Linked DNA regions of Homo sapiens: region 2 is linked to region 1. The links come from fine-mapping of genetic effects on gene expression. A gene starts in region 1. The other region holds a variant in brackets. All regions are shown on one strand. Distances are from middle to middle. Region 1 holds the start of TMEM98 (transmembrane protein 98). Region 2 has its middle 29 kb from the start of SPACA3.

Evidence for each region. PIP is the estimated chance that this variant, and not a neighbour inherited with it, causes the effect.
Region 2: its variant is the best candidate, but not a certain one, in a credible set for the expression of TMEM98 in subcutaneous fat (TwinsUK, PIP 0.69).

What each region holds. Positions count from the first base shown.
Region 1 is chr17:32,923,593-32,931,927 of GRCh38, reverse strand. It overlaps TMEM98 (transmembrane protein 98), which reads right to left and starts at 3,775. Exons shown (of 8, transcript NM_015544.3): 1 at 3,691-3,775; 2 at 526-601; 3 at 269-453. The coding sequence starts at 399.
Region 2 is chr17:32,958,762-32,967,096 of GRCh38, reverse strand. No RefSeq gene overlaps it. Among named protein-coding and RNA genes, the nearest start is that of SPACA3, 29 kb to the left of the region's middle. The variant T/AAAAT (reference allele first, on the strand shown) is at 5,272.

The DNA.
Region 1 (8,335 bases):
AGATGGCTGAGCTTTTATGCTAGGTGAACATGTTCATATTCAGTGACTTTCTTCTTGGCTCAGGAAGCAGAGAAGGAGGTGACTCAGGATGTTGGGAGGCTTAAGGAACATTCTTAAACTCTGAGGTCTTTACAGGGAAGGACACCTGCAGGTACCATTTTAGAACCAAAAAGCTGAGTTAGAGTTGCCCAACACTGAACTACGTGTTCCTCTCTTTTTCTTTAGTTAGAGCCCACCCCTCCTCCTTGCCCTCCATAGGCTCACTCACTTAGAATCATAGCGCTGCAGCAGGTCTCGCGGCCGGCAGTAGCGCTGCCTGCAAACCAGCACCAAGGCTGCAAACGAAGCCAGAAAGATGGTGGCCAGCACACCTATGGCAACAATCACCACAGTCTCCATGCTTCCAGAGGGCTCCTGACTCAGTCCCGGTCACATCCTCCTCATGGGCTAAAGCTTGAGAGAACATGAAGTCAGAGCAGATCTGGTCAAGAAGCCACGAAAGAGAGTGGGACAGGTGGGTCTTACCTGCTGGAAGTGGCAAATTGGGGAAGAGGATGGCAGGTGCTAGGTTCCTCCACGACACCTGCAGAGACCTGAGGGCCTGAAGAGAACCAAGGTAAAATTTATGCCATGCCCCAAATTTGCCTTTTCCTTTCTCAGAAGAATTTGCTCCCCAGTTGGACTAAAATTTTTTGTTTGTTTGTTTGTGTTTGTTTGTTTTTTTAAGATGGAGTCTAGCTCTGTCACCCAGGCTGGAGTGCAATGGCACGATCTCAGCTCACTGCAACCTCTGCCTCCTGGGTTCAAGCGATTCTCCTGCCTCAGCCTCCCAAGTAGCTAGGATTACAGGTGCCTGACACCACACCCGGCTAATTTTTTGTATTTTTAGTAGAGACGGGGTTTCACCATGTTGGCCAGGCTGGTCTTGAACTCCTGACCTCAAGTAATGCACCCACCTCGGGCCTCCCAAAGTGCTGGGATTACACGCGTGAGACACCGAGCCCGGCCTTAAAATAGCTTTTTAAACCCTAGACAAAAGGAAACATTTTAACTAGCAGTTGTTTTCGCAGCCATAAAAACATGCACAAAAGAACACCCATTAAAGAGAGGAAAGATGAAACTGTATTTACTGAGGATCTACTCTGCACCAGGTTCTTTGTTAACTTTTCCAACAACAATCTTATGAAGTGGACATATTAGTAATCCCATTTTACAGTTGAGGAAACTGAGGTTCAGGGAGGTTACAGAATTTTTCCAATATGCAGTCAGGAGATGGAAAGCCATCCACTTACACTGAGATGGACATTCACTCTACTTTTCCTTTCTAAGGAAGAAAGAAGACTGTAAAGGTTCTGGAAAGAGTTCTAATTGCCAGTTTCAGTGTTGGAAACTTAGAACTGGCATTAAAGTGTCCATTGCCTCTTGCCAGTTTTCACTCAGGAGACTGTTTCACATCTATTTCTTTTTCTCATAGAATTCTTTTATTTGTGTACAAAAGAAGAATGAAAGAAGTCCGTGCATTTGTATATACTAGTGCACAGAATTTTTTTAGTATGAACACATCGATAGGCACAAACACACATAAAATGTAACTTGATAACAGTAGCTGCCTCTGGAGAGAGGAACTGAAGAACGGGGTCTTTCACACCTATTTTAAACTCATAAGCCAGAAGAACAAGGGCATCTCACAGAAGTACATATTCACTGTTATTTCATTGTAGGCCTCCTGCTTGTCTCTCTTTGTGCAAGCATTCTCCCCTCTCTGGGCTTTAATTTCCCCACGTGAAAAAAAGACACTCTGACTTAGGAGTCCTTAGAATACCAGGAGGGTGCTTTTCCTCTATTTGCACTTAATTCTATCCTCCATGTCTCGGAGGGTCCAAACGCTCTCGGTCACCATTCACTAAGTATTTATTGATCATCTACTATGCATCATGCACTGGAGATTGGAGATAGATAGGACAGAGACCCTGATCTTAAGGAGTTGGTGGGAGAGGCAGACAGGTGACAAACCACTTCAACTCCATGTGCCTGTGCTTCCTGCAGAAGAACACAGAAAAGAGAGTAACTGTGCTTGCATGACACTTTCTGGGAACTGACACTTTCACAGGAGTGGTGAGGCTAGAGCTGGGTTTTGAAGGATGAGCAGGAGTTTGCCAGGTAGACAAGGTTGGGACATGCCTGGCTTAAAGTGCCAAGGAAGCCTTTCTCAAAGGGCTCACAGAGCTGCTCTCCCATCTCGAGCTCACTGGACCACAAGAAGGAGAAGGCTGGCATCTGCCTCTTCTGTGTGTGTCGCTGATTTTGTGAGAGGTAGGTGGGGGAGGGGGGTAATTCTCAGGGTCCGCCTCTGTTTCTCTACGTGTGTGTTTCTCTTTACTGTCCTTTTAACCACCTCCTTTTGGCCTTTGTGTTTTCTGCCTCCTCTTATGTCTGCCTTTATCTCTGTTTCTCTTTCCAGGCATCTTTCCCTCTGCTGCTCCCGTCTCCCGCTTCTCAGTGTCTCTCCTTCCCCTCCCCCGGTCCCCAGGCCTCCAAGACCACCCACTTGGTTTCCTCTCTCTTCCTGTGCGTTCTGAGTGTTTCTCTGATCGTGTTTCTCTGGGTGTGTGTGAGCTGAGTGTGCTTCTAAGTGTGTTTCTCCGTGTGTGTTTGTGTTAGTGTGCGTGAGCTGTTTTTCTGTTTCTGTGTGTGTGAGCTGTTTCTCAGAGTGTGCTTCTGAGTGTGTGAGCTGTGTTTCTCAGAGTGTGTTTCTGAGTGTTAGCTATGTTTCTGAGTGTTTTCTGAATGTGCTTGTGTGAGCTGTTTATCTTGAGTGTGCTTGAGTGGGTGTGAGCTGATTGTGTTTCTCAGAGTATGTTTCTGAGTGTGTGTGAGCTGAATGTTTCTCCGAGTGTGCTTGTGTGTGTGAGCTGAGTGTGCTTCTGAGCGAGTGTGAACTGTTTCTCGGAGTGTGTTTCTGAGTGTGTGTGAACTGAATGTTTGAGTGTGCTTCTGTGTGTGAGCTGAGTGTTTATCTTGTGTGCCTCTGAGTGCGTGTGTTTCTGAGTGTGTGTGAACTGAATGTTTCTGAGTGTGCTTCTGTGTGTGAGCTGAGTGTTTATCTTGTGTGCTTCTGAGTGCGTGTGTTTCTGAGTGTGTGTGAACTGAATGTTTCTTAGTGTGCTTGTGTGTGTGACCTGAGTGTTTATCTTAAGTGTGCTTCTCAGTGCGTGTGAGCTGAGTGTGTTTCTCGGAGCGTGTGTTCGTGGTCCTTCTCTGCAGTCTGCGTGGCGTTTCTTTGTGTTTTTCTTTCTCTATTCTTCCCTGCGTACTGAAGAGTAAGTTTTCCTGTTTTTCTCCGTCTCTTTCTCTCTCCCTTACTTTCCCCCTTCCCCTCCGGTTCCAGAACCACAAGGACAGAACAGACCCAAGACCCTACCCGCTTCCCCGTGCTCGTCCACCCAGGACGCCCACTCTGTCCCCGGGAGGGAGGGACCCCCAGCCCGCCCGGGACGCGCCGCACGGGCCCCGGAGCGCTCCGGGGCGCGGCTCCTACTCCTTTCCCCAACTTCGGGCGCGCGGCCCCGCGGCAAGAACAAAGCTGCGGCACCCGCCTCCCCTCTCCCCGGCAGCCGGGCCAGGCCCCGCGCCCCCGCGTCCCCTTCCCCGACTCGCCGCGGCCCGCCCGGCCCGGCGGGGCTCACCCACCTCAGGCTGTGGCTCCCGGGCGCATCCCGCGACTGCCCCGCCGATGGCAAAGTCCGGGCGCGGGCGCGGGCCTGCAGCGGAGCATGCCGGGAAGCGCCGCGGCCCTAGGAATCCAGCCTCGCGCCCCCGCGCCCCGGCCCCCGGCCCCCGGCCCGCGCCAAATCCCCGCCGCCAGGCGCCGCCGTCACCGCCAGGCCCCCCGGCGGCCGGGGCAGCTGGGAGGCGGGCCCTGGCGACCCAACACCCCTTCCTCGCGCCCCCGCGGTGGCCCGTCCGGGCGGCAGACGGAGAGGGGAGCGGAGGGTCCCTGCCTGCGCCCCGCCCCGGGCTGGCGGTCCCAGGCGGCGAGCGCGGATGGGTACCGCAGGGGGGCTGGCGGCGGAGCCAGTGTGCTCCGCCACGGACTGTCCCATTGAAACCCTGCCTCTGCCACTCACTAGCTATGGACAACTTAGTTCAGCCTTTGTGCCTCGGTCTGTAAAACGGGGCTGCTGCTTGTCAGCATCCTCAGAGTTGGTATTAGGAATGATGGGATGCAGGATGCATCGGACTGCCTGGCCCAGGGTAAAGAGTGAATCGAGGGTCGCTCTTATTTACAGCCTGACCCACGGGTCAGTGAGAAGCAGGCCCACCCCTGGCGACTGCCTAGCCAGGGGCAAGAGTACAAATGCAGAGCCCTTGCTAGTAGTCTTGCTGCTTCTATTCCCACACGACTCCATCCCATACATACTGAAGGGGGTCTACTGGTTCAGGCAAACACACACCCCCTACCCTGCCATCCTTCATTCTAACGATACTCAGGCCAGGCAGGGCAGGCTGCCCTGGGTGGATGGAAGTCAGACCTTGGAAGCAGGCTCAGGGCTGTTTACACAGGGATTTCCGGAGTCCAGGGTACCAGGAGCATGATCTAGAAGGGAACATACGCTCCAGCTGGAGTGGGCCAACTAAAGCACGGGGTTCAGGGCAGGATCCCAGTGGTCCAGGTCTGAGGTCAGTATCGGTGACAGTTAACAAAGGATACAGATTGGGTCCTAGGCCGCTTGACACAGGGTCTGCAAACTGGTACCCCCAAGGCCACATCCAGCCCACAGAGGTGGTTTTTTTGGTTCATACTTTTGTTGTTTTATTTTAATTTTTTTGAGACAGAGTCTCAGTCAGTCGCCCAGGCTGGAGTGCTGTGGCACAGTCTTGGCTGTTTACGGGTGGAGGGTGTCCAGGTTCTTGCCTTTATTTATTTATTTATTTATTTATTTATTTATTTTTTGAAACAGAGTCTGGCTCTGTTGCCCAGGCTGGAGTGCAATGGCACGATCTCAGCTCACTGCAACCTCTGCCTCCTGGGTTCAAGCGATTCTCCTGCCTCAGCCCCCCAAGTAGCTGGGATTACAGGTGTGCGCCACCACGTCCCACTAATTTTTTTTGTTATTTTTAGTAGAGACGGGGTTTCGCCACGTTGGCCGGGCTGGTCTGGAACTCCTGACCTCAGGTGATCCACCCACCTCAGCTTCCCAAAGTGCTGGGATTATAGGCATGAGCCACCGCACCCGGCCTGTTCTTGTCATTTTGAACAAAGAATTAGACAAAAGGCACAAGCAAAGCAAGTAAAGAAAGAATGAAGCAACAAAAGCAGAGATTTATTGAAAACAAAAGTGCATTCCACAAGGTGGGAGCAGGCCCCTGCATATGGGCTCAAGAGCCCCTGCTGTAGAATCTTCTGGGGTCCAAATACCTCCTAGAGGTTTCCCATTGGCCACTTGGCGTTCACCCCATGTAAATGAAGTGGTGCCACAATTAGTCTGATTGGTTGTGGAAAGCAACCAATCAGAGGCTGAAGTGAAGTTACAAAGGTTGCACTCCTATGCAAAAGAAGATTTGGCCCGCAATCAGTCTGATCGGTTACTTTCCACAACCAATCAGAGGCTAAAGTGAAGTTACAAAGTTACACTCCTATGCAAAAGAATATTTGGCCGCAATCAGTCTGACTGGTTGCTTTCCACAACCAATCAGAGGCTGAAGTGAAGTTACAAAGTTACACTTCTATGCAAACGCAGGATTGGTTGCGGAAAGGCAATCAGAGGTACTTTCAAAAGATTTTCCATCTGCCAAGCAGAAAGTGGGGAGTGGGGGTTGCAAAGGGAGTAGTCTCTGGTCCGTTTGTTACTTAGGTGCGGAAAGTTGGGGTTTTCCTTTTGATTTAGTTCTAGGAAGTCAGGTGAACCCTTAGGTTTCCTGCCTCCAGACCCTATTCTCCTGCCTCATCTCTCTCCTGAGAGACATGACCCCCATAAATCTTTATGGGATGCAGAGGAACTGTAACTGCTTTATGCCAACTTGGGGCGTAGTTCCTACCTACTGGAGATCATGGAACTCTTGCCCTACTCTGTCTAGTGGAGACAGTGTGGCATCCTGATGGCCAGGGGTGGTGTCTTCACTTGGAACTGACTGGAAACTTTGTCACATGATCATCTGAAGCTTGATGGTCTCTATGTGAAAGGAAATGAATATGGTTAAAAGATTTAACAGGAACTTCAGGGGGTGGATACTTATGCTGTCAGGAATGTTCATTATGGAGATGAATTGAAACATTCTGCTAATTACTACAAAGGAAGTGATTCCATAAGTTTGGAAGAAGGCAATAAAAAAATGGCCACTATTATCCAGAGCACTTCCACGTTTTATTAAGTACCTTATCTCCTGGCCTGATTTGGGGTTGCTGGGATTGGCCAAGACTCAGCTATTTTTACAGGCACATATTCCTAAGTTAGGTTACCGTTCATCCACAGAGACTCCAATATAGAAATACGGAGTCCTTCTCAGGCTATATTTAATTTGCTTTAACAATTTCCCCCTTTTGGTCATTTTCTCAATTTTGAGAGATTGACCAAACCTTTAGTCATTCATGTCACTACCACCATCATAAATGAACTTATTTGGTCTTGAAACCCACTGGGAAACAGTAAAACAACAGTGAGTTTTGTACAGTGGGAACAAGGACTGAGTAGAGGGTACCTCCTTATGGTGGAACATCCTGTTTGCAGGAGAAAAACAAAACCTGGTCTGTTTTAGGATCTATGTGTTTTGGTTTGTTTGGTTTGCTGGGGCCTAGCACATGATGTCAGTCCAAAACACTGGCCTCTCATAATTTTGTTAAAAAAATTCTCCCTTTTTGGTCAGGTTCTCACTTGGGTGAGAGTGTGACCAAAATTTAAGGCCTTAGCACCACACTCACTTGCCATCATTTTGGGTTTCCAGTCTCACCACATCATTCATAGGTTATGGTATCCTCCTGGTCATGCACTTCTTTCAGCTCTTGTCATTCCACTTGAAAAGAGACCATTTGACATTCTAGAGATGGCTGAATGCAAGCATTTAAAGCCTTTGAGATAATACAGCGCACCAGGGAGACTATTATTATGACTACTGGGAGGATAATACTAAGAGTTTGGAGCATACTTCATACCAAGGATCCCCATAAACCAAACCACCTAAAATTAAATCAAAGAATGTGCTAAAGAATCTACTCACTTAACTAAGAAATCTCTTCGTTAATCCCCTACAACTAAATCTCTATAATCTTCATTTGATGTATTTCTCCATAAGCCACAAGTGCCAGCAGCTGCACAGATACTTCTCTGTTCAGCCGATTCTATCGTAACCTTCACAAAAGAATTTAAAATCTGTTGTGTAACTATAGCCTTTACAGTAGATATTCTCAGAAGACCCAATCTTTGGGTTCTAGATTGTGAAGGGGTTGATTGTCCTCAGTGACCCATAAAAAGCTTTCTTTACCTGGTGAAAATACACTGTAGCATAATAATCTACTGTTATAACATCAGCCCTCTTGCATAGGAAAGCTTTTTTACAACCAGAAACATGCATTGAAAATGGCAATTGAAATGTTTAAATGGCCCATGAGGTAGCCAAATGTACTTGAAGATTTGATTGTCTTCCCAGGAATATGGATTTGACAAACCAAACATTGGTTATAAACTACTTTAGCAATGTATAAGTCAGCACACCAATATATATTTAATTTGGATTATTTTATCTTTTCCATGATGAGTCATGGAGTGCATAACCTTGAATAACAAAAGCTTTAAGGACTCAGGAAGGGCAAGGCTGCTGTCCTGGTTCTCCATGAGTCCATGCTTAACATCGGACTTACGTCATCTTGAATACCAGTTGTTTCTCCAGTTTAGCTGTATAGCACTGACAACTGATGGGTTATCATAGGTAATTTGACTTAGACCATGGAGTTCATTCAAATTGTATATCTAAACAATTTTAGTATCCGCTGATTTAGCATGCAAATCTGGCAAAGTATTTTCTTGGTACTCAACTAATTTTTGTTCCACTTGGGTTAACACTTTTATACAAAGAAATTTGGTCTCTCCCCCTCCCCCTCCCCCTCCCCCTCCCTCTCCCTCCACGGTCTCCCTCTGATGCCGAGCCAAAGCTGGACGGTACTGCTGCCATCTCGGCTCACTGCAACCTCCCTGCCTGATTCTCCTGCCTCAGCCTGCCGAGTGCCTGCGATTGCAGGCGCGCGCCGCCACGCCTGACTGGTTTTCGTTTTTTTTTGGTGGAGACGGGGTTTCGCTCTGTTGGCCGGGCTGGTCTCCAGCTCCTAACCGCGAGTGATCCG
Region 2 (8,335 bases), 35 kb before region 1:
CAATTTCAGAGCCTGTTATTGGTCTATTCAGGGATTCAACTTCTTCCTGGTTTAGTCTTGGGAGGGTATATGTGTCGAGGAATTTATCCATTTCTTCTAGATTTTCAAGTTTATTTGCATAGAGGTGTTTATAGTATTCTCTGATGGTAGTTTGTATTTCTGCGGGATCAGTGGTGATATCCCCTTTATCATTTTTTTACTGTGTCTATTTGATTCTTCTCTCTTTTCTTCTTTATTAGTCTTGCTAGCAGTCTATCAATTTTGTTGATCTTTTCAAAAAACCAGCTCCTGGATTCATTGATTTTTTGAAAGGTTTTTTGTGTCTCTATCTCCTTCAGTTCTGCTCTGATCTTAGTTATTTCTTGCCTTCTGCTAGCTTTTGAATGTGTTTGCTCTTGCTTCTCTAGTTCTTTTAATTGTGATGTTAGGGTATCAATTTTAGATCTTTCCTGCTTTCTCTTGTGGGCATTTAGTGCAATAAATTTCCCTCTACACACTGCTTTAAATGTGTCCCAGAGATTCTGGTATGTTGTGTCTTTGTTGTCATTGGTTTCAAAGAACATCTTTATTTCTGCCGTCATTTCGTTATGTACCCAGTAGTCATTCAGGAGCAGGTTGTTCAGTTTCCATGTAGTTGAGTGGTTTTGAGTGAGTTTCTTAATCCTGAGTTCTAGTTTGATTGCACTGTGTTCTGAGAGACAGTTTGTTATAATTTCTGTTCTTTTACATTTGCTGAGGAGTGCTTTACTTCCAACTATGTGGTCAATTTTGGAATAAGTGCGAGATGGTGCTGAGAAGAATGTATATTCTGCTGATTTGGGGTGGAGAGTTCTGTAGATGTCTATTAAGTCCACTTGGTGCAGAGCTGAGTTCAATTCCTGGATATCCTTGTTAACGTTCTGTCTCATTGATCTGTCTAATGTTGACAGTGGGGTGTTAAAGTCTCCCATTATTATTGTGTGGGAGTCTAAGTCTCTTTGTAAGTCTCTAAGGACTTGCTTTATGAATCTGGGTGCTCCTGTATTGGGTGCATATATATTTAGGATAGTTAGCTCTTCTTGTTGAATTGATCCCTTTACCATTATGTAATGGCCTTCTTTGTCTCTTTTGATCTTTGTTGGTTTAAAGCCTGTTTTATCAGAGACTAGGATTGCAACCCCTGCTTCTTTTTTTTTTGTTTGTTTTCCATTTGCTTGGTAGATCTTCCTCCAACCCTTTATTTTGAGCCTATGAGAGATTTTGTCACCACCAGGCCTACCTTACAAGAGCTCCTGAAGGAAGCACTAAACATGGAAAGGAACAACCAGTACCAGCCACTGCAAAAACATGCCAAATTGTAAAGACCATGGATGCTAGGAAGAAACTGCATCAACTAATGAGCGAAATAACCAGCTAACATCATAACGACAGGATCAAATTCACACATAACAATATTAACCTTAAATGTAATTGGGCTAAATGCTCCAATTAAGAGACACAGACTGGCAAATTGGATAAAGAGTCAAGACCCATCAGTGTGCTGTATTCAGGAGACCCATCTCACATGCAGAGACACACATAGCCTCTTACACTGTTCTAATTCTTTACTTAAATTTGGATAAAGATTTAAAGGAGAGGTTGGTTCAGCTCCCCCATGGTCTCCAGGTCTTTCTTCCTCTAACCTTCCTCCTGCCCCTTGATCTTCCTGTCCCCTATTTTTTGAGACGTATGGAAGGGGCAAGCATGGTAGGGGGTCCCAGGGCTTTTCCCTGGGTGAGGACTTTTTACTAGGCTCTTTCTCTTCTTTGAGGGGGAACATGGGGGCTAATTCCATGATCCATCAGAGAGTGTAACCTATCTCTTCTCGTCAGTATGGGGTTTTATCATTCACATAGAGAATTAAAACTTGGCAAACCCAGTCCTCGTCTGATCCAAAGTTAGGCCAAAAGACTGAAGGCTTACAAATGGGGTCCTTGGGACAGATAAAACAGCAATACTTTTTCATCTTTTGCTTTTCCTTGTCCCTGGTTCGAGAGTTGTCCCTCCAAACCTGCAGCACTCTCCCCAAAAGACTATCCAGGGAATGTCAGAGAGAGTCTTTGATTCCCTCTTTCCTTTGTCCCCTTGGCCTAGAATTTCTGTTTCCCATTTTTGGTCAGTCTCTGTGTCTGAGTTTCCTTGTGTACATAACCCCCCTCTATTGGAGGTTTCTTGCACACCCCGAAAATCACTTCATCCATCTCCGGCCATTTCCCTTGCAGGAGAATGGAACTGCGGATTGGGACTCTGCACTCGCTTCGTATCTAAGATACCTCTCAGTCACACACACTTGACCTCCGAAAATGCCCAACCACCAAGGCAGTACTTATAGTCCAATTTTCTACCTTGGCTCATGCACAAGTTTGCCTGGTTGCCACAGTGCCTGCTTTTCTCCCTCTGTCACCTCCACTGCCTCCTGAGTAACAGTCTCGAGTTTGTCTATGGCTTCTGCAGGGAGCCGGGGCGCCCGGACAGAGCAGGCCACCTAAATCAGGTGGGACACATCTCCCCTCTCACCCAGAGTCTTACTCCACGCAGGCACAGAGATCCCAGATGGGCCTCCAGGTTTGTGAGAAACATACATTCACCCATCCAAACCCGAAGAATGGACTCAGAGACACGAAGAACAGCGGAAGCGAGACTTTTAATGGTGGACTTGCAAGATCAGGTGTCTGGTAGGCAGGCACACCCAGGGCAGTTACAACAGGTAATTTATCTCCTAGCACACAAATCCTCCCCCCAGTTCCTCATTGGTTGAGTACTATGGGGTTACAATCTTCCTAGACATCGCCTAAGTTTCATTATCTCCCTTCTAAGGTTATGCCCTGGTCTCCTCCCCTGCTTAAGTTTCAATTTCCCAATAACAAAACTTTCTTCCCTTTTATGGGCTGACCCCTCTTCTACATTCTATTCACTTATGGTGACCTTCTAGGTGCATGAGACATGTGGTTTGTTACGTTTGCAGCCTGGCTGCCAGTACTTAGATTTATCATGCCTTGAAAATGGATCATTTAAAATGTTTTCTCACATTGATGATCCATGTGGCCCCTCCTAATGCCATCATCCTCTAGCTGTGCCCCCTACTCACCCACCTGCTGATTTTGTATATGGTATTTTGAGTCTCCATAAGCTAAAATGGGTGTATTGTCACCTCCATTTCTTCAACTGTAAAATGGGAATAATTATTCCTACTGCACCATTCCTATATTGGCATGAGGAGAAAAAGGGAATAATGTGTGTGAAATTGCCTTACACATAGTACATGCTTAATCAACATTTGTCTTCCTTAAAAAACCATCATAATGGGTTAGCATGGAAAAAATGTTAAAGAAAATTGTAATTCACTGACAAGCATCTTCATTCAACAGCCAGTGGGACAGAGTGGCCTTCAAGCCAAGAGAATTACATGATGTCACAACTTTCCAAGAGGCGGTGATGGATCTCAGGCTTCACAGGCAGCCTAGTGAAGTGGAAAGAACTTGGGCAGGGAGATAGACAGACCTGCTTTTAGGCCTCTGACCCATCCTTAATAGAAATATTTCTGTCCAAAAAAAAAAAAAGATTACACTGGAATAATCATTTCAACAGCTCCAGTCACTACAAAGTGGAAGATTACAGAGCCTTGATGCCAAGTCTGAGCTGAGCTCAAACCCTTCCTTTGCCATTTGTTATTGAGTGACCTAATTGTCAGTAGGGATGGTAATAATTCAAATTATTATTAGGAGGCTGTGAATTTCAAGTAAGATAAAGTATTTAGTAAGTGCTTAATAATATTAGCTATTGTTGTGTTCTAAGAGCTACAGATGGGTCCCAGTCAGTGTATTAGTGTATTGCCTGCCTAGGCACAACTGTATTCTTGTTTAAGATTTCCATGAAAAATCACACAACATTGTCAAACCCCATCACGGTTCCATGAGAAAGATGTTTAGTAGTCTCTGCTACCCTCCCTCCATACACACACACACACACACACGCATCCCATTTTACATGTAAAAAAGTTGACATTGGACATTTGATCAAGATAAAGATCTGTTATACTCTGAAGGATGGGGATATAAAGTTGTGTTTTTCCAGCATCTCCTTCCTTCATCCCAAGAACATACTGCACTCCCAAGAATATACCCATCAAAAGAGGTTAAAATGACTGTTTGAAGTGGGAAAGGCATCATCCTACCCCTGAGCCTCTATAAAGAAAGAAATCTTGTAAAACAGAATCTGTCCCATGGTTAAGCCAAGACCATCTCTTATTGATTAAAGGTCAACAAGAATGTAGATTAGTTAAGCTATGAAGAGACCTAACATTCTGAAATGCCAAGTCCTGAGGCTAAAAGTCTGAAACCAATCATTCAAAATCCAAGGAGATGCAACCCTGGAGGAATGATCTGAAGTAAGCTATTTCACAGAATCTGAAATCCGGATTGCCAGTATCTCGCTAAGGCACTCCCACACAGAGGGCTGAAACTGAGCTCCAAACTCTGATAGTGCTTAAAATAGAGTCCTGCAAACATACACAGAGCTCATGAGGCTGTAAGGCAGACCCCTGAATTCCAAAGTTGCTGGGAGTATTGGGACAATCAGGCTTGACAAGAGACACTTACAGACAAGAAGACAGAAGGAGACAGAGGCACCCACATGATAAAGAGAGTCAAGCAGCAGCTACCCACTTCTGGTTCCTTAAACGTTCTAAATAAACAGTGGAAGCTTAGTCTTCTCTTGGTTAATCTTTCATCTCTCCAGAGAATGTGGCTTTAGTTACTACCCAGTTTTCTTATCAGAGGAAACCAATGTATACAAAGGCAATGGAGTTAGTCCAGAAGCCTTTATCTAATTATATTATCAGAAGTCAATGGTTGGCCTTAAACAGTGCCCACTTCTCTAGAGTCTAAGACAGGGAGGTGAGAACAAGCCAGGCCAGAGCTCAGGATAGAGTTGAGTAGGGGGCAAAATTTCAGCTCCAGTCTGGACTCAGTGGCTCACGCCTGTAATCCCAGCAATTTGGGAGGCCGAGGTGGGTGGATCACTTGAAGTCAGAAGTTTGAGACCAGCCTGGCCAACATGGTGAAACCCCATCTCTGCTGAAAATACAAAAATTAGCCAGGCATGGTGGCGGGTGCCTGTAGTCCCAGCTACTCAGGAGGCTGAGGCATGAGAATCACTTGAACCCAGAAGGTGGAGGTTGCAGTGAGCCGAGATAGCACCACTACATTCCAGCCTGGGTGACAGAGCAAGATAACATCTCAAAAAAAAAAAAAA[T/AAAAT]TCAGTTCCAGGGCTGGGCCCCTGCAGAAGGCAGCTGTGAAGGTTCAAGGTGCTTAGTTCAAAAAGTGAAGCAAACTCAAGGGTACAAGCAGTAAATGTCTGTAAAGCTGCTCTGGCTGGGATGAGTGCACAGCAGCAGAATGTCTAAGCAGCCAGCCAGAGCTCAGCAGCCAAATAAATGGAAGTCAGTTACGGAAAACATGTCCAGATGCGGCAAGACCTCACCAGCAAGTGGGGAGGGGGAGAAACAGATAACTGGCTCGATGTTCTTGTTTGTCACTATCTTCTCATTGCCTAGCCTGGATGCTGGCATATAATAGATGCTTAATAAACATTTGTAGAATTAATAAATGCAAGACAAATCCCCTATAGACACCAAGTGTCTGCTTACTTTCCCGTCTCCACCATCCTGCCCATCACTGCCTTTCTTGCAGCTTCCGAGGGTAGTCTCATTAAATCACTAATTGTAATTAGATCATAAGAACAAAAGTACAGATACTGTCAGGTTGTAAAGGACAAGAAAATTAGGAGAAATCTAATGGGAAACATAAAGCTTGGAGATGGAGTTGCTGATTGAGCTCCAGGAGCAGCGCCTGGGAGGGGAAGACTGGCTGTTGCGGGAGGGTTGGAGAGAGCAGGGGAGCCTACTGGGGCATGGAGAGGAGAAGAGGGGGCTGGACCTTGCTTCCTGGTCCAGCCAGCCACAGGGAACTAACACCTAATGAAAGCAGCCTTGCAAGCTCACAATAGGATGTGGTCTGACTCATCACCTCCCCACTGTAACTCTGGTGGATGGGCTTCTCACACTGCCTATGGAAGAGGAAAGCATTACAGAGGCCACATGGGATGGGGCTGGCCTGTGGCTCCGTTCTGGAAACAGCAACCAGACTGCCTGCCCAAAAGGTGCTGCTAAGACCATGGTGAAAGTCAATAATGATAAGAAGCCACCATCACTCTGACAGAAGACTCATGACATGAGAGCCAGATGTTCCACAGGACAAGGATCTCCTTCCCTGAGTTGGAGGCAGGCAAGGAGCTGAAGTTCTGTCAATCCAGCCAGCTTGGGCTGAGCCACGGAGCAAACCAGGTCTGTTTCTAATCTTGTCATCTACTTTGCCCACATTCAGGTGTGGCCTCAGGCGTCCTCTTTACTCTTGGCTTCTAGGAGGCGCCCCTTTGGGCCACATGTTGAGACTCAACCCTCAGAGAGGATCTGCTCCTGGTTGTGTTGCTGCAGATCCCTGGATCTTGCAGCGGGGAGAGTGTTGACGTTGCCTGGAAGAGGAAACAATGTAAGAGACTGGCTATCAAACTACATTCTGTGAAGCTGGGGGACTCCGCAGAGGTGTTCGGGAACAGAGGGGAGTTGAGCAGGCAGGGGTTCTGCACACCCCCACTCCCACTTCAAATCAGAGCAGCTTCACTTTTCTCCATATTACATTACAATTCTACATAAGGTTTTGTTTCAAGAAAATGTTTTGAACTAGCCTGGGCAAAAATAGTGAGACCCCCTGTCTCTATAAATTTTTTTTTTTTAATTAGCCAAGCATGGTGGTGCATACCTATACTCTCAGCTATCAGGACACTGAGGCAGAAGGATCGCTTGAGCCCAGGAGTTCAAGGGTGCAGTGAGCTATGATCACACCACTGCACTTCATCCTGGCCAACAGAGAGAGACCCTGTCTCCAAGAAAGAAGGAGAAATAGAGAGAGAGAGAGAAAGAGAGAGAGAGAAAGAGAGAGAGAGAGAGAGAGCTGGGCACAATGGCTCATGCCTGTAATCCCAGCTTTTTGGGAGGCCGAGGTGGACAGATCCCTTGAGCCCAGGAGTTTGAGACCAGCCTGGGCAATACAGTGAGACCCTGTCTCTACTTAAAAAAAAAAAAATAGCTGGGTATGGTGGCATGTACCTGTGATGCCAGCTACTTGAGAGGCTGAGGCGAGAGAACCAATTGAACTTGGAAGGCCGAGACAGCAGTGAGCCATGATCAGCCACTGCACTCCAGCCTGGGTGACAGAGCAAGACCCTATCTCAAAAAAAAAAAAAAAGATATTAGAAAAACAGGGAGAAGAAAGAGAAAGAAAGAAAGAAAGAAAGAGAGGGAAGGAAGGAAGGAAGGAAGGAACGAAGGAGGAATGAAGGAAGGAACGAAGGAAGGAAGGAAGATCCTGAAACTAAAAAACGTTGATATCTGTGGCAGATTCAGTTATTGACCCCAGATCTTCCTTCCCCTATAGTGGAATTATACATCCACATTCATACCATGGCTTCACGATGGACAGAGTGTATTTCCTGAGCTCTTGACTTTGGGCCTACCTATTCTTTGACCAACAGGATGGTTGCACAACACTAGCAAAGACGTGAAAAGTGTTTGTGTGGGCCTACACTCGAGTTCTTGCCTTTTCCCATGAGAAAAATTTGCCTCAGCTACAAGTCCAAGGAGGATGAGAGGCATGTGGAGCAAACCTGAGCCCAACCCACTGCTTGGAGTCAGGCTGAGTTGAGCCCGTTACACATCAGCCAAACCCTACCAATGCACAGGTCAATAAGCCCAAAATAAACGCTTGTTGTAAAACATTCAAATTTCTTTTTTTCTTTCTTCTTCTTTTTTGTTCCATCTTGCCCTGTCGCCCAGACTGTGCAGTGCAGCGGTGCAATCACAGCTCACTGCAACCTCCACCTCCTGGCTCAAGTGATCCTCCCACCTCAGCCTCCCAAGTAGTGGAATTCTAGGTGCATGCCACCACACCCAGCTAATTTTTGCATTTTTTTGTAGAGATCACATCTTGCCGTGTTGCCCAGGCTGGTCTCGAACTCCTGAGCTCAAGCAATCGGTCCACCTGGTCTCCCAAAGTGCTGGGATTACAGGTGTGAGCCACCACACTCTGCCACCATTCAAATTTCAAAGTTGTCTGTATGCAGCAACATTAACTGACTACACAATGCCTTTTAAGGGCCCTTCCAGCACCTTTATTTAAACAAAGAATCTGTCCAAAAAGGAAAGAAAGAAGTTTACAAAAAACTCAAGCACTACAGTACTTAGTTCTATTGCTTTGGAGAGCAA